2 separate regions of the Homo sapiens genome follow, and region 1 is linked to region 2. Evidence: fine-mapped expression QTL. Tissue or cell type: whole blood. Region 2 holds a variant in brackets; the other region holds the start of a gene. All regions are shown on one strand. Distances are from middle to middle.

Region 1 (12,286 bases), 47 kb after region 2:
TTGCCTTGCGATCATCCTACACACCTCCTACCAGAGTGGCAGAGACAACATCCTCTCTCTGCTTGTATTTTTGAAATGGAAACATCCTCTAAATAGTGGCTGCCTGAAATAAACACTACATTTCCCACATGCTCCCTCACAGCAAGGTGTGGGTATGTGATTAAACCCTAGCTAAGAGGATGTAGGTAGAAGGATCTTGAGCAACTTAAACAAGTGACACCGAGCATGTGCTATATGCCCTTCTTTACCCCTTTCTTCCTTCCTGCTAGCTGAAAGAAGGGTGTGAGGACTCCAGCGTCTAGCATCCTTTTTGGACCATGAGATAATTGTCACTCCCCAGGGATAGTGGAGCAGAAAACTCAAAGGAACCTGAGGCCCTGGGCTCTGGATTGCTGACTTAAGTGAGATCATAAAACCTTATGTGTTTTGTATAAACTGTTGATTCCATCGTAAGTGGATTTACTTTCAGAGGAAATATCTGATACCAAGAACAATCAGATACTAAGGAACTCCTCAGTGGTTCCAGAATTAGTCCCAGGCAATGCTGAGTACCAGGGATAAATTTCCCTCTTTCCTATATGTTCCCATTCTAAACATCTCAATTTCAGGGACTGCCAATCTGCCCCTCCCCTCACTCCTCCCTACTGCTGCCCAAATGGAATATGCTGTCAAAGCAGCTACACAGAGTGACCAGAAGTTCATGGCTGAGTTTTGACTCTTACCTGGCAGGCAGTTCCATAGCAAAGCAACCCTGCAGAGCCAGTCTTCTCTCGTGCCAGCTGCCCCACCATTGGGGTAGTCTGGGGACAATCATAAGAGCAGATATTTTCTGAGCATACTCTGTGTCAAGCTCTGGTCCAAGAATCTTGGATATTGCAATGAGTTGGAGCTGCTCAGCCACACTATGGTACTGTTACTGACTCCGTTTTATAGACAAGGAGGCTGAAATACAGAGAGGCTAAGTAATATGCCTGGGAAGTCTCAAAGCTAGGATTCAGACCGACAGGGACTTGCCTGGTAGCCTGTGCAAATGCCCACTTCTCTACGCTGCCTCTTGGTGGGGAGGCAGGGAAGAGAAAAAGAAAGGCAATTTAAAAAATAGACACTCCAGAGGGGCATAGTGGCTCACACCTATAATCCCAACACTTGGGGGCTGAGGTGGGAGGGTTGCTTGAAGCCAGGAGTTCAAGACCAGTCTTGCAACATCACAAGACCCCTTCTCTACAAAAGTTGTTTTAAAATTAGCCAGGCATGGTGGTGCGTACTTGTAGTCCCAATTAATCAGGAGGCTGATGCAGGAGGATCACTTGAGCCCATGAGTTTGAGGCTGCAGTGAGCTCTGATCATACCACTGTACTCCAGCCGGGGCAAAAGAGTGAGACCCTGTCAAAAAAAAAAAAAAGACACTCCTATCTCTAGAGCGCCCATATTTCATTACAAACTTTAATTCTGCCTTTTTCTCTTAACATCAGAAAATTCCTATTATCTTCCAGACTTTGAGTTAAAGGATCTCCTATTTCAAATGTGTCATGCCTTGCACATTCCAAAGTGACTTTCCCATCCATCAATAACAGCAGAGCAGGTGGCATAGAAGATCCGTGGTAAAAATGTTTAAAAATCGCCCCCGATCTCAGCAAGAGACAAAGACTGAAACTGATTCATGGAAGTGAAAGGCAACCTCAAAGAAGAAATTACACATTCCGGTGCCAAGACACCATTGGCATTTTGTTTGAGGGGTCAAAGTTCTAGAAAACAATCCAAATTTGTTTGCACCAGGGCCTAAGTTGTTGCCACTTAAAGAGACTTGAGGAGTCCTCTGGTGTGGTGCAGAGGATCCAAATCTTGGTAAGACAGGCTGGGTAGGTTGGCAGGGCTCACTGAGCCCACCGGGACCCCGATCTCAGAAGAGTATGCAAGAGTCTCAGAGGAGCACAGTGCCATGCTGCCAGCAAGCAAACATTCTGCACCACTGACGATGCCACCTACACTCACTAGGGATCACTTTACTTTTCCCTGGAGGGTGGAGGTGCAGCCACAAAACTGTCAGTCAGTGCTAAATCACGTCAGACTCTTCCACACTCAAATACTTTCTTTTGATTTAAACCCAGCTCACCAGGGTGGTGGTCACTTTGCCCCTAAAGATACAATACCCCAGAAATGTGCCGTTTCTTACCAAACTCAATCTTACCAAGCCCAAGAGTGAAAAATTAAAATTTAAATTAAAAAGAAAACATAACACACAAACTTTCCAGATGAGAGGTTGCAAACTTAAATGCCCACAGGGGCCAGAAATGGGTGAAGTGTTCCCCACTGGGATCAACTGAGACAAAATGGTAAGGCTGTTCCCCATCTACGACGACGGCTCTCAGCTCCAAACGATTGTTTTCAAGCGAAAGTGAGACCATTTCTCAGCAAAGTTAAAGTTGGAAATTAGGATGTGTATGTGAAATCTCCCAGTTCTAAAACGTTCACATCAAATTCACAAGTAAGACACCCTAAGGGCTACACAGAGCTGCGGGTAACTTTTGGTCCTGGAGAGCCAATTTGCAATCTGTCTTTTAGACATGAGCCCCAAAGACGGGGGAGGGGGACACTTTACACGTGATCAACTCACCACCAGCAGGTTTGATACCCCTGGTTAGAGTCCAGGATCTCAAGCCAGATGCAAGAACTCAGGTAACCAGTGCCCTGGAGACCTTTCTGTTTCAACCCAGAAGATAGGGTGATTTAAACCAGGATCTGAGAAACACTCCCTCTGGAAATACTTCTTTCAGAGAGAGAGGAGGCCCAGGCGACAAACACAGTCGCCTTTCTAGGGGATGCACCATCTGCAGAGGAGCGGCAGCCACCTGCAGAGACCTCTGCAAGGCAGGGAGAGGCAGAACCTCCCTGGGTGAGATAAGGAAGGGACATGGGCAGAGAAAGGGGAACTAAGGAGGACAGGTTCTCCCAGAAACGTCCCGGGAAAACACTTTCTCCCCCAGCGGAACTGACCATGCCAGGATTGCTTCAGGAGACCGCTTTGACTCTTCCAGAGCCGGGAAGGCAGGAAGGGTAGGTGAACTTCCTTGGCATGTAAGACTCCCAAGCGCCATCGGCCCCAGTCACACACACACCCCTTGAAAGGACCCTGTTGTGGTGAAGAATTCCTAGCCTGGGAGGTCACTCCGACCAACGTGATTCTTTCACTCTCTGCCTAACTCAGTAACTTCTTCTATAAAGTATTTTTCACCCTCTCTTCCCACAAATAGCATCCCCAAAGCCCCAGAGCCTACCTTGGCACTGGAATCCCTGCTTCCCGAAGCCCCTGCAAAAGCAGAAGGAGGTGTATGTCAGGCAGCCCGGGGGGCCCAGCCTCCAGCTAGTTACCCACAGAGTCACCCGCCTTCCTCCCTGCCTCTGTACCCCAGGTGCAAACTCCCAGCCACAGGCGGGTGCCCAAGAGTCTTCCGCCTTTGTGGGGGTAGGTGGGAGCTCGGCTGTAACCCCCATCTGCCTTCACTCCTGCAGAAGAGAGGAGGCTGCGACCACCAGGTGGCGGGATAGTGGGGAGCGTTTCCGTCGGGGTAGGGGCTGAAGGCAGGCGACAGATGTACCCATAGATGCCCCGAGCACCCTCGGGAAAAGAGAAGAGATAAAGACGCATTCAGAGGGAGGGCGAGAGTGACCCCGCGGCGGTGGTGTCCTCTGGGAGGGGGACTGGGAAGGAGGAAAGGATGCCCCACTACTGGAGGGACTGGGGAAGAAAGGGGCCCGCAGTGATGTGACCGAGGAGTGGAAAGGGGAACCCAGGCCCTCGGGGAGGGGCAATGGGAGATAACACAGGGCGCTGCCCGGAGGCACAGAGGAGTGAGAAAGGATGTCCCATGCCCGCAGGGAGATAGAGAAGGACACCCAGGGCGCCGCCCCCCCCGGAAACAAGGGGTGGGGGGCGAGGGCTCCTCGCGCCCGGAAGCAGGCGGAGAGATAGGGAACCCCGGGTCGGAGAGCACCCGAGGCGCTGCCCTCCAGGGCAGGCACAGACCCCGCGCGCTCCTAGTCAGGTGGAGCAAAGGCTCCCGCGACGCCGCCCCTGGGCGCTCTAGAGGCGCCTGAGAGCAGGAGAGGGCAGGAGGCGCCCCGCGGCGGCCCGTCTGGGACCAGGGTGGGGACAGGGCAACGGCAGGACTGTCCATCCGGGAGTCCCGGGCAGCAGGGTCCGGAGCCGGGAGTCCGGAGACGCGGGGTCCCAGGGTGCGGAGGGCGCGGAGGGCGCAGAGGGCGCGGAGAGGGGGTCCCTGGCGCGGCGCTGCCCTCGGGGGCCCGGGAAGGTGCCCTGCGCGCGCGCGCTCACCAGATGAAGTCGGTGCAGTGGCTGCAGAAGGTGGGCTGCTTGAAGAAGCGGGCGGTGAATTTGTGGTTCTTGACCTCATGCACGTTCTTCTGCCGGAGGGCGCCTTTGCGGGCGAAGCGCACGGTGCTCTCCTCGCCCTCGCTCGGCGGCGGCCCCGCAGCCGGGTCAGCCATCTTGCGCGCGGGGAGCCGGAGCCCGAGAGGTGCCGGCCCCGGGGCCGCGGGACCGCGGGCTGCGGGCCGGGGAGGCGCGGGAGGCGGCGGCCGCTGCTGCACCCGGGGCCGCGGGCGCTTCCCCTGCGCCGGCTCTGGCGGCCGCGGCGCGCGGAGCCGGGGCTGTCACTCGCCCAGCTGCTGCCGCTCGTCCAGCTGCGCTTGGCACCGCTGGCCCCAGCTGCGGGGGAGGGAGGCGGAGCCCCGGGCCAGCCCCGCCCTCCTCATTTGCATCGCGCCCAGGCCCCGCCCAGCGCTGCCAGCTGCTTTACATATCGGCGCCCGGGCTACCGCGGGCCTCGCGGCTAAGCGTGCACAGCCGCAGCTCTGCAGCGCCGGGACCGCAGCCCGGGGTCGTCGGACCCGAGCCTCGCCCCCCACCCCACCCCGTCCTCGGCCCCCGGGGCTGCGTTCAGGAGATGTGCCCAGGGGAGGAGCGAGAGTGGAAAGACCTACGGGGCGAAGGGGAGCGGGTGGAAGGGGTGGGGCGCAGCGAATTCCACCCCGGCCTCTGCGGAGACTGGTACCCATCCACCCCCATCCATCCCATTGGTCATTCTGCACGCGTCTCCTGGAGGGATGGGCTCCCGCTGTCACTCATTCGGAAAGGCTTGTGGCCGCACACACTTACACACACATACACACACACGTTCTGCAGAGGTAGGGGAGGAGCGATCTTTATTTTATATGTCTCTAACTCCACCACAGAGAAGATTCTTGGCTTTGCTTGCCTCCTGCACGTTTGGAAGAGAACTCCCTACCTTCTGTCCATCCCCTCTGCAAAACGACTCCGTTTCCCCAACTGTAACATAGGGCTAATAGTGTGGGGAGGAAGGATTTCAGTAGATCAATATTTTTCCAAATTTCATTCATTTCTGACTCGTCTTCACAAATTCTGGTCGTATTTGTGCACCCTCTGGGGGAAAAAAAGCCTATCTCTTTTGGTCTGAGTTTGAACAGCAAGAGGTATCTACATTATTAAAATATCTCCAGGTGCCGTCATCTGTCCTAAGCATCTTCGACTGAAGTCATCTTTTATTTGTTAAGAGAGGAAATTAATAAATGCTAGAGGGGTGTTAAAGACATTACTATCCAACCAGGACTCTCTCCTTGATGTGATCTGAAGGTAACTGAAAGGGTAATAATTGTCTACAATGTGTAATTCAATGTTATTTAGCGCCCTGTTCATGCACAAGGCCTAAAGATACCCACTGCCACCATGTCCCCCACTCTGGGAACGCAGAGCTTCATTAGGCTGTGAGCTCCTTCACCAGACCTAGGCTCTGTGAGAGCAGGGGGGCTGTTCACCACCATGTCGCCCAGCACCAAGCTCAGTGCCTGACACCTCCCAAGACCCCAGTAAATATTGGTTGATTGAGTGAGGGCATGGATGAACAAGTGAATGAATGAAGACTTAAAGGTCGGCACTTCTTACCCCCACTCACACCCAGTAGGTGTTTAATAATAAATATCAAGTGATTGCTGGGCATCAGGTACTTGTGCTGTCTTATTTAGCCCCCGCAACAACCCTATGTAGATCTGGTAACTTTCATTATGGATAAGGATGGGGAGGTTCAGAGTGATTAAGATACACCCACAGTCATACCGTTGCTGAATGGTGATTGGGCTGGCCTGACTACAAAGCATCCTGGTGACAAAGGGGTGAACCTGAGTAGTGGTGGATGAAGGGGGGCAGGCTGGAGTTGCACGAGCTCAGGTCCCACTATGACAATTTTGCCTGGAAGCTGCTGAGTGGTAAGTCATTATTAGGTAGCATGTCGAGAGCAAGGGCTGCAATAATAGAATGTCCCTCTCCTACATAGTAATTCAAAGGTAAGGAGGAAAAAATAGCATTCACTTTTAAGGTTGACATGTTTGGGAAACTGGATGTGCCTGTCTATTATTAGTCCTTGAAGAGGCCCCACCACCTCCCAGGGAGGCTTGGGAAAACATCCCAGGAGACATTGCTGCTGAAGTAGATTTCCTTTGAACTGATGAGCTGGAAGCTCACAGCCCACATCCTGCCTTTTGAATGAAGTGCCCTGGATGACTTTGGTCTGTAACAACAAACAGTACCTCATGGCGCCGGGGCCTGGGGATGCAAGGGCTGTGGATGGAAAAGAGCCACTTGGTTCCTGAAGGCGTTGCACCAAGTGAGGATGAGAAATGTGGTTCCCATTGGACCCAGATTCCTGTAGGTCAGGGTCTCAAACTGGTGGCTCCAGATGCTCTATTTTTTTTAAGCTAGCCCAGTGGGTTGTTGTTGTTGTTGTTGTTTTTTAAGTTCACGGGTCATAGAATTTTACTTAAATATCCAGATTCTGACTTATCTAGGAAAAAAGATAGAGCTAAATGGAGCCTACATTCCTCCCTCACTCATACATTTGTTCTTTCAATCAACAAATTGCTTATTAAGCACCTACTGTGTGCTGTTCCAGATACTGTTAAACAAACCAGACAAAGGTCCCTGCCCTAGTGGAGCTTATAGTCTAATGGGGAAGGGGGAGTAATAACCTAACCAACTAACGAATCCATACCTGGTGGTGTATAATAGAATGTTTGTAAATAAAAATAAAGCATTATTATAAAGACCACAGGGAAATCCTTTATAATATGGGGACATCTGAGTAAGGCCTGAATAAAGTGAGAGGGTGAGCCAGGGGACTATCGAGAGTTTCCAGACAGAGAAAACAGAAAATGCAAAGAGCCTAGGGGAGTATCAAGCTTGGTATGTTGGAGAAATAGCGAGAAGGCCTCAGTGGTTGGATGAACAGAGAGGAGAGAGGACTTATGAGATGAGGTCAGGGAGGTAGCAGGGCCCCAAAGGGCTTTGCAAATGTGATAAGGAGTTTGGATTTCACTCCAGTGAATGGAAGCCATTGGAGGGTTGGAAGCTGAGGAGTGGCCTGATACAACTTATGGGGTTTTCATTTTAAAAGCTTACCCTAGCTACTATGTGGAAATTAGAGGAGAAAGGGTGGAGGCAGGAAGAGCAGTGAAGAGGTCAACTGAGCAGATCAGGCAAGAGATTAGGGCAACATGGCATAGTGCCAACAGGAGCTGCAGGGCAGCAGCTCCCCGTAGATTGGGCATGGGTCCTCCTTGCCACCAGAGCCCCCCAGGCCCACTCTGCTCATGAAGGAGTGAATGCTGGTCACTTGAAAGATTTCAGAGGCAGTGAGGGGGCAGGTTGCTGTGGCTGAGAATGGAGTCCAAGGTCCCTTTGCTCCAGACCTGTGGCTGCCATAAAAAATTATAACAGAACAGGGTGGCTAGAAATAACAAAAATTTATTCTCTCATCATTCTGGAGGCCAGAAACCATAAGTCACAGTGTCAGCAGGGCCACATTCCCTCTGGAGGTTTCAGAGGGGAACGCTTCCTTGCCTTTTGTGGCTTCTGGAGGCTGTCAGCATTCCCTGGCTTCCCTGGCTTGTGGTCACATCGCTCCCATCCTCCTCTGTCTTTATATCACCCTCTCCTCTGTGTGCCTATCTTCACCCCTTCTGTTTCTCTAATATCCCCTGTATATCTCTTTTTTCTTTTCTTTTTTTTTTTTTTCCAAGATGGAGTTTTGCTCTTGTTGCCCAGGCTGGAGTGAAATGGCATGGTCTCGGCTCACTGCAGTCTCTGCCTCCCGGGTTCAAGTGATTTTCCTGCCTCAGCCTCCCAAGTAGCTGGGATTACAGGCACCCGCCACCATGCCCGGCTAATCTTTGTACTTTTAGTAGAGACAGGGTTTCACCATGTTGGCCAGGCTGGTCTCAAACTCCTGACCTCAGGTGATCTGCCTGCCTTCAGCCTCCCAAAGTGCTAGGATTACAGGCGTGAGCCACTGCACTGGCCCTATACCTTGTATATCTTTTATATGAACACTGGTCCTTGGATTTAGGGCTTCACTGGATAATCCGAGATGATCTCTTCATCTCAAAATCCTTAATATAGTTATGCCTGCAAAGACCCCTTCGCCAAATAAAATGACATTCACAAGTTCCAGGAATTATAACATGGATGTACCTTCTTGGGGGCTACCATTTAAATGACTACAGTGCATAACCCTGGGCAAGTCACTTACTTCCTCCTGTGTCTCATTTTCCTCTTCTCTAAGGTAGGACAAGGATACAGTAGTTTGCCTCTCAACCCCTTTATTCTTTTGTTTTTTGTTTTGTTTTGTTTTGGTTTTGGTTTTTTTTGAGACAGAGTCTTGCTCTGTCACCCAGGCTGGAGTGGAGTGATGCGACCTCGGCTCACTGCAACTTCCGCCTCCCAGGTTCAACCCATTCTCCTGCCTCGGCCTCCCAAGTAGCTGGGATTACAGGCGTGCACCACCGTGCACAGCTAATTTTTGTATTTTTAGTAGAGACAGGGTTTCACCATGTTGGCCAGGCTGGTCTGAAATTTCTGACCTCAGGTGATCCACCCGCCTCAGCCTCCCAAAGTGCTGGGATTACAGGCATGAGCCACCGCGCTCGGCCTCAATCCCTTTGTTCTAAGGCTGCACTCTTCAACACAGTTGTCACAGTACCCACATGTGGCTGCTGAGCATTTGAAATGTGGCAACTCTCAAGATCACTTAGAACTGCTACTAATTGTAACTAAAAACCTATAGTAAGAAACAAGAAAAGGCTAGGTGTGGTGGAGGCTTATGCCTCCACTTTGGGAAGCCAAGGTGGGAAGACTACTTGAGTCTAGGAGTTTGAGACCAGTTGAGGCAATATAGTGAGACCCCATCTCCACAAAAACTTTTTTTTAATTAGCCAGACAGGTAGTCCACACCTGTAGTCCCAGCTACTCAGGAGGCTGAGGCAGGAGGATCATTTGAACCTGAGAGTTGGGGGTTGCAGTGAGCCATGATTGTGCCACCACACTCCAGTTTGGGTGACAGAGTGAGACCTTATCTCAAAAAAGAAAGACAGGAAGAGAGACAGGGGGAGAAAGAAGGAAAGAGATAGAGGGGAAGGAAGGCAGGAAGGCAGGGAGAGAGGAAGGGAGAGAGGGGAGTATGGCCCCTTCAAAGGGAAAAAATAAACCAACAGAAACTGTCCCAGAGAATGATCAGAAGGTGAGCCTACTAGACAATGGCTTTAAAGCAACTATATTGAAGATGCTCAAAGAACTAAAGGAAGACATGGAGAAAGTTAAAAAAATGCATAAACATAACAGAAATGTCAATAAAAAAATAGAAAACCCAAAAAGAAACCAAAAAGAAATTCTAGAGGTGAAAATACAATAAATGAAATTTAAAAATCACTAAATGGTTTCAAAGGCAGATTTAAGCAAGCAGAAAAAAGAATGCACAAATTTAAATATAGGACAATTGAAATTATTGAGTCTGAAGAACGAAAAGAAAAATGATTGAAAAAAGTGAACAAAGCCTGAAACACTTGTGGGACACAATCAAGCAAACCAACAGCGTACCATGGGAATTTCAGAAAAAGAGAAAGAGAAAGGAGAATTATTTGAGAGCTTATTTGAAGAAATAATGGCCAGAAACTCCCCAAGTTTGATAAAAGACATGAATATAAACATCCAAGAAGCTCAGCAAACTTCAAGTAGGAATAACTCAAAAAGACCCACACCAAGACATTATAATCAGACTGTCTGAAGCCAAAGACAAAAAGAGAATCTTTAAAGTGTAAGAGAGAAGTGACTCATCATATACAAGGGATCCTCAATAAGATTATCTGCAGATTCTTATCAGAACTTCAGCAGTTAGAAGGTAGTGGGCTGATGCATTCAAAATGCTAAAAGAAAAAATAATCAACCCAAAATTCTCTAACTGTCAAAACCGTCCTTCAAAAGTGAGAGAAATTAAGACATCCCCACATAAGCAAAAGCTGAGTTTGTCACCACTAGAGCTGCCATGCAAGAAATACTAAACTAAAGGAAGTCCAGCAGGTTGAAATCAAAGTGCACTGGACAGTGTCTTGAAGCAATGTAAAGAAATAAATATTTCAGTAAAAGTAAATACATGGGCAATTATAAAAGCTAATATCATCATAAAATCCACTTACTGTTTTCTCCGTGATTTAAGAGACTAATGCATTATTTAAAATTACTACTTTATGTTTTTGGGTGCACAATGTATGAAGATGTAATTTTATGACATTAATAACTGAAAGGGATGGGGACAGAGGTATTAGAAGCAGAGATTTTGTATGTTATTAAAGTTAAGTTGGTATGAATTCAAATTAGAATATTCTGACTTTAGGATTTTAATGTAATCCCCATGGTAACAACATAGAAAATAATTATAGAATATACACACAAGGGAATGAGAAGGGAATTAAAACATTTCACTGCAAAAAAAAAAAAAAAAATCAGCTAACCACAAAATAAGATAGCAATGCAGGAAAAGAAGAACAAGAAAAGCTATAAGTTATATAAAAAACAAATATCAAAATGAGAAAAGTAAGTCTCTCATTCTCAGTAATTACTTTAAATGTAAATGGATTAAACTCTCAAATCAAAAGACAGAGATTGGCAGAATAGATTTTCAAAAATGCGACCTAACTATATGCTGTCTACAACAAGAGAACTCACCTTAGGCCAGGCATGGTTGCTCACACCTGTAATCTCAGCACTTTGGGAGGCCAGGGCAGGCAGATCACCTGAGATCAGGAGTTCAAGACCAGGCTGGCTAACGTAGTGAAACCTCATTCTACTAAAAACACAAAAAAAAATAGCCAGGCGTGGTGGTGGGCACCTATAATCCCAGCTACTACAGAGGCTGAGGCAGGAGAATCACTTGACCCTGGTAGGTGGACTTTGCAATGAGCCGAGATCAAGCCACTGCACTTCAGCCTGGGTGACACAGCAAGACTCCATCTCAAAAATAAATAAAGAAATAAATAATAAAGAGATCCTACTTTAGATCCAAAGACACAAATAGGTTGAAATTAAAAAATGTGAAAGCAGGGTCTGAAAGAAATATTTGTACCCATGTTGACAGCAGCATTAGTCACAGTAGCTAAAACATGAAAAGATAAGCAAAATGTAGCATATACATACAATGAAATATTATTCAGCCTCAAAAAGAAGAAAATTCTGACACATGCTACAACATGTATGAACCTTGAGAACATGATGCTAAGTGAAAGAAGCAAGTCATAAAAAGACAAATACTGTATGATTGCACTTATACGATATTGTTTTAATGTGCCTCCCCCACCCCCCCAGATTTCATGTGTTGGAAAGTTAATCCCCAGTGTGGTAGTATTAATAGGTGGGGCCCTTAAGTGATGGTTGGATCATGATGTGGTCTGCCCTCATGAGTGAATTAATGGGTTAATAAATTAATGTCTTATAATGGGAGGGGAACTGGTGGCTTTATGTGAAGAGGAAGAGAGATCTGAACAAGTACATTAGTATGGTCAGCCCCCTCACCATATAATACCCTGAGCTACCTCTGCAATCTTCAGAGAGTCCTCACCAACAAGAAGGCTCTCACCAGATGTGGCCCCTCAACCTTAGACTTCTCAGCCTTCATAACTGTAAGAAATAAATTCCTTTTCTTTATATTACCCAGGTTCAGGTATTCTGTTATAAGCAACAGAAAATGGACTAATACATATGAGGTACCTAGAGTAGTCAAAATCATAGGGACAGAAAGTAGAATGGTGGTTGCTGGGGGCTGGGAGCAGGAAGAAATGGAGCATTATTGTTTAATGGGTATAGCTTTGGCTTTGCAAGACGAAAAGAGTTCCGGAGATGGATGGTGGTGATGGTGGCACAACAACATGA
Region 2 (12,286 bases):
CAAGGGGTATACACAGACACAAATATGGAAACAACAGACACTGGGAACTCGGAAAGGAGGGAGAGAAGGGGGTAACGGTTTAAAAACTACCTACTGGGTACTATGCTCACTATTTGGGTAACAAGTTCATTGCCTAAACCTCAGCATCACGCAATATACCCATGTGACAAACTTGCACACATACTCCATGAATCTAAAATAAAAAACAAAATATGTTTCAAAGAATGGGGCATTTTATTTCTATCCTACAAGCATATCTGTCTACAATATTTGCTTTCAGTGACAGAAAGCAAGAAAGCAAGAAAGAAAGCAAGAAAGCAAGAAGGAAAGAAAGAGAGAGAAAGAAAGAAGGAAAGAAAGAAAAGAAAACTCATGCAATGCCCTGGGATTTACAGATTCGTTCCAGAGGCAGCTTTGGAAAAGAAATGGAGTGGAAAGACGCCCATGGCCCCAGTGACCCCCCAAGAAAAGAGAACTTCCTTTCCTTAAGTCCAAGCTGACAGGTAGAGAACTAAGTCAGGCTGAAATTAGGAAAGTGGGAAGGAGGGACATGCACCAAGGAAAGAGAGGGTCTGTGGCTGCTACAGGCAGAGATGAAGGGGACAGATAGAGCATGAGGCATAAAAGGAGATAAATGAAAATGATGATAGGCCCATACTGAGCCCCTGCTGAAGCCAAGAAATCTGTTCAACTCATAACACGGCTGGGCACGGTGGCTCACGCCTGTAATCCCAGCACTTCGGGAGGCCAAGGCAGGCCGATCACTTGAGGTCAGGAGTTCGAGACCAGCCTGGCCAACATAGTGAAACCTCGTCTCTACTAAAAATACAAAAATTAGTCAGGCGTGGTGGTGCGTGCCTGTAATCCCAGCTACTCAGGAGGCTGAGGCAGAAGAATCGGTTGAACCCAGGAGGCGGAGGTTGCAGTGAGCCAAGATCATGCCATTGCACTCCAGCCTGGGCGACAGAGTGAGACTTCATCAAAAAAAAAAAAAAAAAAAAAAAAAACACCTAACACACCATAGTCCAACCCTCGCAGTGACTCTAAGAGGTAAAGATGACGTTGAATGTTTTGCCCAAAGTCCCACAGACAGGGATTTGAGAAGAACTGAGTCTCCTAGAGTAAAAGAATCAAGGAGAACCAGGCAAGAGAAGCCTCTCTCAAGAAAAGCCTTGATCCATCTGCAAGTCAAAGGAAACTTTCTTAGCACAGCCAGACTAATGCCAACCAACAGCAAAGATGATGGTTAAGGATACTTCTTGCTGTGATGCTTAGATTTGGATCTCAGCTCTGTGACCTTCAGCAAATCTACTGACCTCTTAGGACCTCAGTTTCTACAGCTGTAATACAACACACTTGTCTCAAAGAGTTGGTTTGAGGATTCAAAGAGAAAATAAATGTAATTTATTAGCACATTTCCAGCACATGGCAATCAATCAATGAAAGTTTGTTGTTGTTAATGTTGTTAGTATCACAATCCTCAAACCTCCTGCCGCCCAATATCGAGTCAAAAAGAAATACACTAAGGCCAAGGCCACCTTACTACAAGATCAACCTGGTGATGGCTCACAGGATTTTTAAGAGATCTAGAAAGACATCCAAAAAATATTTCCCCGCCAGCTTCCTCGTGTCTGAAATATATATTTTCCAGCACACAGTGGCTTTCATTTCCCATTTAAAAATAAATCCAGTGCAAATACAGATTCACACTAGGGGAAGGAGCTGGGTAGCTTGGAAATCAGAGTTGAGAGTGAATCAGAAGAGAATGCCAGAAAAGGGGGCAAAGAGGGGAAACCAGCTGTGGATAGGCCAGGCACAGTGGCTCATGCCTGTAATCCCAGCACTTTGGGAGGCCAAGGCAGGTAGATCACTAGGTCAGGAGTTTGAGACCAGCCTGGCCAAGATGGTGAAACCCCATCTCTACTAAAAATACAAAAATTAGCTGGGCGTGGTGGCGGGCGCCTATAACCTCAGCTACTCGGGAGGCTGAGGCAGGAGAATGGCTTGAACTAGGGAGGCGGAGACTGCAGTGAGCCGAGATCATGCCACTGCACTCCAGCCTGGGTGACAGAGCAAGACTCCGTCTCAAAAAAGAAAAGAAAAAGAAAAAAAGAGCTGTGGATAGTGGTAAAAAGCCACAGGATCTCCCATCTGCTTAAGAAACAGAATTGATTCAGTTAGTTAAAAAGCTTAATGATTAGTGAATTTCACTCCTAAAGAAATAATAAGAGTAAAGGGTAGCAGGAGAAGGTTAAATCATAGAGTTAGTGTCTGGCATATAGCAGGCTCTAATAAACAACATGTATCATTATTACTTATTATTATCGTTATTGTTAATTCCTTATAATCTTCACAATAACTACTTAAAAGTAGGCATTACTATTATCTTGAGTTTGCTGGCAAGGAAACTAAAATCCAGAGAAATTAAATAACTTGCCCAAGATCATCCATCTTGAGAACCTGGGAGTGCCCTGCACCTATTATATCCATTCAATCATCCATATTTGCTGAACAACTAAATGATCGCATGAACCAAAGGGCTACTAGAATGCCACAAAAGAAAAGGAGATATGGGCTAGGCATTGTGGCTCACACCTGTCATCCTAGCACTTTGGGAGGCTGAGGTGGGAGGACTGCTTGAGTCCAGGAGTTTGAGACCAGTCTGGGCAACACAGTGAGACCTTGCAGCTACAAAAAATAAAAATAAAAAAATTAGCCAGGCATGGTGGTGTGTTCCTGTAGTCCCAGCTACTTAGGAGGCTGAGGTGGGAGGATTGTTTTAGGCCAAGAGATTGAAGCTGCAGTGAGCTACGGTCACACCACTGCATTCCAGTCTAGGCGACAGAGTGAAACCCTGACTCAAAAAGAAAAAGAAAAGGAGATGGTTCAGTTCCCAGGGTGCCCTGGATGTGGTGTTCAAACAGGAAGCCCATAAGGGAAGGCAAAGAGAATGTTCACAATTTTTAATGAAGTGATATTTGCAAAGAGAGGCAGAAAACGAGAGCTAAGGGAAGGTAACTTGGGGTTGATCTGCTTTGGAAAGGAAAATATAAATATATGACAAATGTTAGTTCCTATGTCCCCATGTATATGATGTGGGGAAATCTCCAGGACTTTTGCTTACATTGAAAATGTCTTCATCATTGGGGGTGGATGCAGTGCTTTGAGCACAACACGGGTGCCAGAGTCAAATTAGGGTTCAAGTCCTAATTCTATAAGCTTGCATAAGAACTTATACTCTCTGAGACTCTCTTTCCTCATCTATAACTGTGCTACCAATATGGTAACCACTAGCCATATGTGGCTACTGAGTACTTGAAGTGTGGTTGAATTGAGATGTGCTGTACGTGTAAAATACATATCAAATGTTGAAGACTTGCTATGCGGGGAAGTAAAATATCTCATTAATAATTTTATATTGATTACATGTTGATATGGGAATATTTGGAATATGCTGAGTTAAAGAAAACATTCTCACAGTTCATTTCACCTGTTTCCTTTGACCATTTTAATGTGATTGCTAAGAACATTTTAAATTACATACACAGCTCAGGTTTATGGCTCATGTTATATTTCTACTGGACAACACAGATCTACAAAATGTGGTTATGGGATTGCTACGAAGTTCAAAGACGTCATATGTAAAGTGTACCAGGTGCCCAGCTGTGCATTTGCTTCCCTCTTCCAATTCATATCCCATTTACCAGTAAGTCCTTTTACCTCCCAAATCTGCCTGTGTCTCTCCCTCTGCACTGCTGCCCGTGCAGACAAAGACACCATCTCTCACCTAGAAATCTGCAATTGACTCCTGACTCATCCTCCCACTTCTGCTCCAGTCCCCAACAATCCATTCTCTACTTGGCAGCCAATGGAAGGTGTGTTAAATACAAATCTGATCCTTTGCATCTCGCCTACCTAAAACTCTCCAGTGGCTTCCCACTGCACTTAGCACAGAGGCTCATCCTGTGGGGCCCCTTATGATCTGGCCCCACACCCACCACGCCCCAGCAACAAGGATCACGCCTAGCCACTTTCCTCCTCAAGACCTTTCCATTGCTCATCCCAGGGCCCAGAATGGTATTTTCCCAAATTCTGTGTGGCTAGCTCCTCCCCACCTTGTAGTTCTCAGGTCACCTGTCACCCAGTTAGGAAGGCCTTTCTGATCTAAAGTAGCCACTCACCACATCACTCTGTTGTCAAATCCTGATTCAGTATCATGACATTTATCGCCAGTGGATCTCATCCTGTTTTTTTCAATTTGCTTACCTGTGTATTGTCTGGCTTCTTGCTGAATATCAGCTCCATGGAGGGTGGGGACCTATGTAAGCCACGCTATGCCCCCAGCCTTGTTCAGTGACTGGAACAAAGCTGGTCCTCAATAAATGCCAGTTTAATGAATAGATGTTTCCACTGGAGCTGTGGTGCAGTTAGAAGCCAAATCCCCAGAAAAATCTTCCCGAGACAGTTTCTACCATCAGCAATTCCACTTCAGGATCTATATCCAAAAGAATTGGAAGTGGAGTCTCAGCCAGGTGCAGTAGTTCACACCTGTAATCTCAGCACTTTGGGAGGCTGAGGTAGGAGGATTGCTTGGGCCAAGGAGTTTGAGACAAGCCTGGCCAACATAGGGAGACCCCATCTCTACAAAAAAAAAAAAAAAAAAGATATTTGTATACCCATGTTCACAACAGCATTATTCACAATAGCCAAGAGGTGAAAGCAACTCAAATGTCCATTGACCGATTAATATATAAGCAAAATGTTGCCTATTCATACAATGGAATATTAATCAACCTTAAAGAGGAAGAAAATTCTGACATATGCTACAACATGAATGAACTCTGAGGGCATTACACTAAGTGAAATAAACCAGTCATCCCAGGAGCAATGGCTCACGCCTTCACTTTGGGAGGCTCATCCCTTCACCTTGAGAGGCTGAGGTGGGAGGATCACTTGAGGCCAGGAGTTTGAGACCAGCCTGGGCAACATAGCAAGAACCTTGTCTCTATTAAAAATCAAGAAAAAAAATTAACTGGGCATGGTAGTGTGCACCTGTAATCCCAGCTACTCAGGAGGCTGAGATGGGAGGATCTCTTGAGGCCAGGAGTTTGAGACAACCCTGGGCAACATAGCAAGACCTTGTCTCTATTAAAAATCAAGAAAAAAATTAACCGGGCATGGTAGTGTGTGCCTGAAGTCCCAGTTACTCAGGAGGCTGAGATGGGAGGATCCCTTGAGCACAGGAGGTCAAGGCTGCCATGAGCTGTGATTGCCCCACTGCACTCCAGCCTGGCCTGCGAGAAACAGGGAGACCCTGTCAAAAAAAAAAAAAAAGGAAAGAAAGAAAGGAAAGGAAGAAGGAAGGAAGGAAGGAAGGAAGGAAGGAAGGAAGAAAGAAAGAAAGAAAGAAAGAAAGAAAGAAAGAAAGAAAGAAAGAAAGAAAGAAAGGAAAAGAAAAAAAGGAAGAAACCAGCCATGAAAAGACAAATACTGCAAGAGTCCACTTACATGAGGCATCTAAAATAGCCAAACTCATAGAAACAGGAAGCAGAATGGTGGTTACCAGAGGCTCGGTGGGGAGGAAGAAATGGGAAGTTATTGCCAGTGGGTATAGAGTTTCAGTTTTACGAGATGAAAAGTCCTAACTGTTGCACAACAATGTAAATGTACTTAAAATGATACTGTACACTTAAAAAAATAGTTAAGATGGTAAATTTTATGTTATGTGTTTTTTACCATGATTTTAAAATTTTGTAATTATTTTTTAAAAATCAAGTTTTCACTTATCCCAAGGAATAGAATGGAAAACTGTGGCTAAATAGTCTAAAAGGAATAAAATATTTTTTT[A/T]AAAAACGGGAATGGGCCAGGGTGCAGTGGCTCACGCCTGTAATCCCAGCACTTTGGGAGGCCAAGGTGAGTGGATCACTTGAGGCTAGGAGTTCAAGACCAGCCTGGGCAACATGATGAAACCCCGTCTCTCCTAAAAATACAAAATTAGCTGGGTGTGGTGGTGAGTGCCTGTAATCCCAACTACTTGGGAGGCTGAGGCGGGAGAATTGCTTGAACCTGGGAGGCAAATGTAGCAGTGAACCAAGACCGCGCCACCGCACTTCAGCCTGGGCAACAGAGCGAGACTCTGTCTCAAAAAAAAAAAAAAAAACTGGGAAAAGAGAGAAAAGGAGTCAACACAGGGCCCTGTCAATGCTCTGCCCATTCTTTGTCTTTCATCTTGGGAAGATGGACACAGAGACTCATGGGCCTGGGCCCCCAGGAGCATCACAGAGTGAAGAGGAGAGGCAAACATTCCCTTTAACCTCACTGCTGAAAACTTCTAGAAGTCTGCTCTCAGGACATAATTAGGAATGCCAGCAAAAGGTGTTTCATCAGAGCACTGCTTGTAACAGTGAGAAATGGAAAATACCCCCATGACCATCCGGAGGGCACCTGTTAAAGATCGTCAAGCCAAGCAGTGGAGACTACAGAACCATACAAAAAAAAAGATCGTAAAATGTGAATTGAAAAGCAGATAGTCTCTTATGTCATCTTGACCCCATTTGTGTGTGTTTGAGGAGACAGAGACAGAGAGACATGGGTAGATAGCAAGGTATTAACATTTCTGCTTGATAAGATTATTTTCTTTCTCTGCATCTTGTTGTAATGTTCTATAATGAAGATGTATTGCTTCTGAAATAAGAAAAAAAAATGTTTTAGCGAAGAAAATATGGCAGGAAAAAATATTCAGAAGGAAACCCTAGGGGATCCCAGAGAAAATTCTAGTACCCTACTTCATTTTCTAAGAGTAAAATTATAGCACAGAAAGAACCCCCAGTAACAAATAGAAAATACAAAGCTTGAGTTATATAATTCAGAAAGGCCTGCAGAGGCTGTCAGACACCCACAGAGACCCAAACAGACCTTTTGGAGCTCAAACCAGGGCAGAGAAAATACACAAAAACTAATAGAACCCATCCCGGGATTAAAAATTAAACGTGCAGAATCACAGAGACAAAGGCATATGTGAGAAGGAGGGGGAGAAGGAGGCAGGAAGCAATGTTCACTCCTCTTTCAGGTGCTAGTGTGGGCCTTGTGTGTGTGGTGGGGGGATTCTCAAAGCTCATTTTCCCCACTGTTCTAGGGAGCCCCTATAATTAAGCTAATACTAGGAGGAAAGAGCCCTTCTATTTAGCTGTCATCTGTGTGAGCACAAGAGGTGAGTCAGGCATCTCCTGCAGCAGAATGGAAAAGACCCAGGAGCCTGCCAGCTGACCTAGCTTCTACCATGCTGCCTGGCTTAGGGGTGGGGATTCGATTCCCCCAGAGTACTACTGAGTCTAAGGACAAATAATATTAATACACTTTCAGAGCATGTCTTGTGTACCAGGAACTTTCCTAAACACTATAAACATACTCACTCGATTTTCACAACAATCCTATGAGATCGGTGTTTTTATTAATCCCATTTTGCAGACAAGAAAACTGAGGCACAGAGAGGTTAAGACTTGCCCAAGGTCACAGAGTTTAAAAAACAGCAGAGCTAGGATTCGAACTCAGGAAGCTATGGCCCAAGAGCCTATGCTCTGAACTACTATGCTGCTGTCTTAGAAAGCTAAAGGACCAGGGCACCGGGCTCAGTGGCTCACGCCTATAATCCCAACACTTTGAAAGGTCGAGGCGGGCGGATCACTTGAGGTCAGGAGCTCGAGACCAGCCTAGCCAACATGGTGAAACCCCGTCTCTACTAAAAATACAAAACTTAGCCAGGCATGGTGGTGCATGCCTGTAATCCCAGCTACTCGGGAGGCCTAGGCTGGAGAATCACTTGAACTGGGGAGGCGGAGGTTGCAGTGAGCTGAGATCATGCTTCTGCACTCCTGGCAACAGTGGGGCTCCGTCTCAAAAAAAAAAAAAAAAAAAAAAAAAAAAAAAAAAAAGGATAGCTAAAGGACCAACAACAAAGGTTTATTCCCAGATTACTATGACATCTGTTTGCAGGAGATTCATGTCAAGGAGAAGGTGCCTGGAAAACCTCAAGGTTGAGTATTGCTGAACTTCATCCTAGGCTATGAAAACAGCCCAGACTTACTAAAGAAAACCACTTTCCCACTCCCATATCTCCTACTGCTTCAGTGCCCAGCTCTCAGCATTCTCTACTTCCTGTGTGCCCACAAAACATGAAAACCAGCTCTCAGCAGGAGCTACACTGCACTCAACCACTACACTGCCTCTTTTTTTTTTTGAGATGGAGTCTCATTCTGTCGCCCAGGCTGGAGTGCAGTGACACGCTCTCAGCTCACTGCAACCTCCGCGTCCCAAGTTCAAGTGATTCTCCTGCCTCAACCTCCTGAGTAGCTGGGATTACAGGCGCGTGCCACCACGCCCCACTGATTTTTTTGTATTTTTAGTAGAGACGGGGTTTCACCATGTTGGCCAGCCTGGTCTTGAACTCCTAACCTCAAGTAATCCACCCACCCCAGCCTCCCAAAGTGCTAGGATTACAGCATGAACCACCACCACACCCAGCCAACACTACATTGCCTCTTAAGGACGCAGGCTGTGCACCCAGAATGACAAAGCCTCCTCTACACTCCCTGGCTGCAAGACCTGCAGAGAGCTGTTTACCTCCATTCCCCCATCTGTTAACTAGAGCTAATAACAGGGGTTATAGTCAATCCTCATTATTTGCAAATTCACCTCTTGCTAAAATTTATTTATAACCGCCAAATCCATACTCAAGGTTCTTTCATGATCACTCACGGACATGTACGGAGTGGCAAAATATTTGAGTCAGCCAACATGTGTTCCCAGCTGAGGATGAACAAAACCATGTTCTACCTTCAGACTTCAGCTCTCATGCTGTAAACAAGCATTCTCTCTGTGGTATATTAGCAGCATGCTTTTTCCCATTTTTCTGCTTTTTGAGGGTGACGTTGCTGTAAAATGGTCCCATAGGGTAATGGTGAAGTGCTATCTGGTGTTCCTAAGTGCAAGGAGTCCGAGATGTGTCATGCGTGTGTTATATAAGCTTTGATCAGGCACGAGTTGGAGTGCTGTTGGCAGTGAGTTAGATGTTAATGAGTCAACAATATATATTAAGGTGTCTTTAAACAGAAACACACACAGAATAAGCTTACGGGTTGATCAGTGGATGAAAATGCTGTGACCAAAGGCTCACAGGAACCCAACTTTGTATTTCACCTAGGAACAATGGTTCAGTGTTTATTAATTCAGTGTTTGCAGTGACTTTACAGAACATAACTACTGTGAATGACAAGAAGTGACAGGCCGGGTGCGGTGGCTCACGCCTGTAATTACAGCACTTTGGGAGGCCCAGGTGGGTGGATCACCTGAGGTCAGGAGTTCAAGACCGGCCTGGCCAACGTGGTGAAACCCCATCTCTACTAAAAATGCAAAAATTAGCCAGGAGTGGTGGTGCATGCCTGTAGTCCCAACTACTCAGGAGGCTGAGGCATGAGAATCACCTGACCCTGGGAGGCGGAGGTTGCGGTGAGCCGAGATCATGCCACTGCACTCCAGTGTGGATGACGGAGTGAGACTCTGTTTTGAAAAAAAGGAAAAAAAAAAAAAGAAGTGACTGCACCTCAGAGTACTGTCAGTCTTAAATAAGCTGATACCACTAAGGCACTTAGGATACTGCTTTGACACATACTAAGTGTGATGTAGCCATTCTCCATTACCATTTACACAGATTTTTAGCTTAAAGACTGAAATGAAATCAGTGAGAACATGGGGACTCACACAGAACAACTAACTTTCCTGAGTTGAGTGGCCCAGACAAATGCACAGAAAGAGAGTTTTGACAGTGCGGCATGCCATTGGTGATGAGCTCAGAGTGAATAAGTGGCTTCAGGTTGAGGCCGACTTTTGGGAACACCCATGGGCTTTACCTGCTCAGAATCTACTCTTGGGGAGTCTTATATGGGATTGTAGAGGGGTCAACAAGTCAGAGATGGTCGTGTGACTCAAGGCAGGACAATCAGAAGCTCCTTCCCCAGACTTAGCACCTTTTTAAGAAAAGATTCTCTCTATTCTCTCTAAAATTTAGCATTTGTTTTTTAAGAGACAGGGTCTCCCTCTGCTGCCCAGGCTGGGGTGCAGCAGTGCCATCATAGCTCACTGCAGTCTTGAGCTCCTGGGCTTAAGTGATCCTTCTGCCTCAGCCTCCACATAGCTGGGACTACAGGCACTGTGCCTGGCTACTGTTTTTTTTTAAGGACAGGGTCTCACTATGTTACCCAGGTGGGAAATTTGCATCTTTTACAGAGTTATTCACCCCATCTCTGGTGTCCTGAAGGAAACAGTCATTAGTCCCTGCTTCCTAGATCCCTAGAATTCATTTGGTTTCAGGACTTTCTAAAGCCTGGTTCTTCATCTTTTCCTTCACATCTCTGTCCATCCCTCCCCCCCCATATCCTTCTAACAAATTCTTTTTTGCTTACATTAATCAGAGTTCATTTATGTTACTTGCAACCAAAGGATTCTAACTAAAGGATTTTCAAAGGATATGTTTCCTTCATCCACCCTTCCCTGTCACTTAGGTCTCAGAAAAAAAGAAAATTCCAGTGTTAACCACTTTCTCCAGCTGAACATTGTTTTGAGTAGTGGTATTTTGAAGGGACAGAGCAGAACAAATACATCAGTGAAGCACTCAGATGTCCTTAAATTAGTTCAACTCTTCTGGCCCAGATGAATTGCATTCCAGGGCTCCAAGAGATCTCACCAGTGAGATCACCAAACCACACTGCCTAGGATCCCAGAAGAATCCTGGAGAAAGAGAAACGCAGAGAGGTACGCAAATGTCATTTTTTTTTTTCAAAAAGAAAAAGAAACCGTGGCTTCTGCAGACAAAAGAACCAGCATAAGGAGATGGAGACATATCGGACTAACCCCATTTCCTTTTTAGTGTGTGTTTTGTTTTGTCCTTGGACAGTTGCTAATCTGGTGGACGGGGGAAGTGTGATGTGGAATATATCCCTGGAGTTTAACAAAGCATTCCTCAATGTTGCCTGTGATAGTCTTTTGGGAATGACGGAAAATATGCTGTCTTCTCAGAGTTTGGTGGATTAGTGACAAGTTAAACTTCCACAGCCACATGGTACTACTTAATACAATTTGTCTTTGTGGCACTTACAAGTAAAATTACGTATATAATTGTTCCATATCTGGCTTCCCTGGTAGGCTGTGGGATCTGTGAGTGAGTGGTTGGAATCTGTCTTGGTCACCATTATATCCCACACCTCGCATTGTGCAGAGCACATAGACAGGGGTCCAAAAAATGACTGCATGCGTGTGTAAATGAGTTGATCAATCAATGAATATATGTCAACCTTAAAGGGACCTCTAAAAGAGTGGCAAACATAAACGCCTATGGGGCCCGGCCAGTCACATAAAATGAGGCATATAGCATGACTAGGGGAGCCCATATCCACCCCAAAAAGTCAGCTACTTCTCAGTTCTAGCCCTGGTGCCATGAAGGAATGCAGACTTGGGCTGTCAGTTACGACACTTTTTCAAAAGATACCTAATACTGGTATTTCGTTATGAAATATCCTACTTTTAAATATGGGTCATGCATATATATATATGATATACACACATATATGTGTGATATACACACATATATGTGTGATATACATACATATATGTGTGATATACATACATATATATGTGTGATATACATACATATATATGTGTGATATACATACATATATGTGTGTGATATACATACATATATATGTGTGATATACATACATATATGTGTGATATACATACATATATGTGTGTGATATACATACATATGTGTGTGATATACATATGTGTTTGATATACACATGTGTGTGATATACATACATATGTGTGTGATATACACATATGTGTGTGATATACATCATATATATATATATATATATATATATCTTTTTAGTTGAAGCAAAACATGTCTAGGAAGGGAAATTCAATCCTTGGACACCCGCTGGTAAGCTCTGCTAAAAAGGGTCCCTGGGTCTTCCTCCTCAGTCTTGTCTCATCCAGTATTTTTTTTATCATAAGACACAGAGAGGCTGGGCATGGTGGTTCACGCTTGTAATCCCAGCACTTTGGGAGACTGAGCTGGGAGGATTACTTGAGCTCAGGAGTTCAAGACCAGCCTGGGCAACATAGTGAGACCTCATCTCTACTAAAATTCAAAAAAATTAGCCAGGTGTGGTGGCACGTGCTTGTAGTCCCAACCACTTGTGGGGGCTGAGGCAGGAGGATCGCTTAAGCCCAG

What was found.
Region 1: PRKCB starts here. The variant in region 2 is fine-mapped to the expression of PRKCB in whole blood (TOPMed, PIP 0.92).

What each region holds. Positions count from the first base shown.
Region 1 is chr16:23,828,396-23,840,681 of GRCh38, reverse strand. PRKCB (protein kinase C beta) reads right to left here and starts at 4,699. Exons shown (of 17, transcript NM_002738.7): 1 at 4,334-4,699; 2 at 3,276-3,307. The coding sequence starts at 4,506. RefSeq lists enhancers at 3,594-3,733, 3,997-4,542, 4,543-5,090 and silencers at 4,044-4,123, 4,454-4,533, 4,564-5,203.
Region 2 is chr16:23,875,128-23,887,413 of GRCh38, reverse strand. All of the region lies in intron 2 of PRKCB (protein kinase C beta), which reads right to left. Among named protein-coding and RNA genes, the nearest start is that of PRKCB, 45 kb to the right of the region's middle. RefSeq lists an enhancer at 5,493-5,622. The variant A/T (reference allele first, on the strand shown) is at 5,848.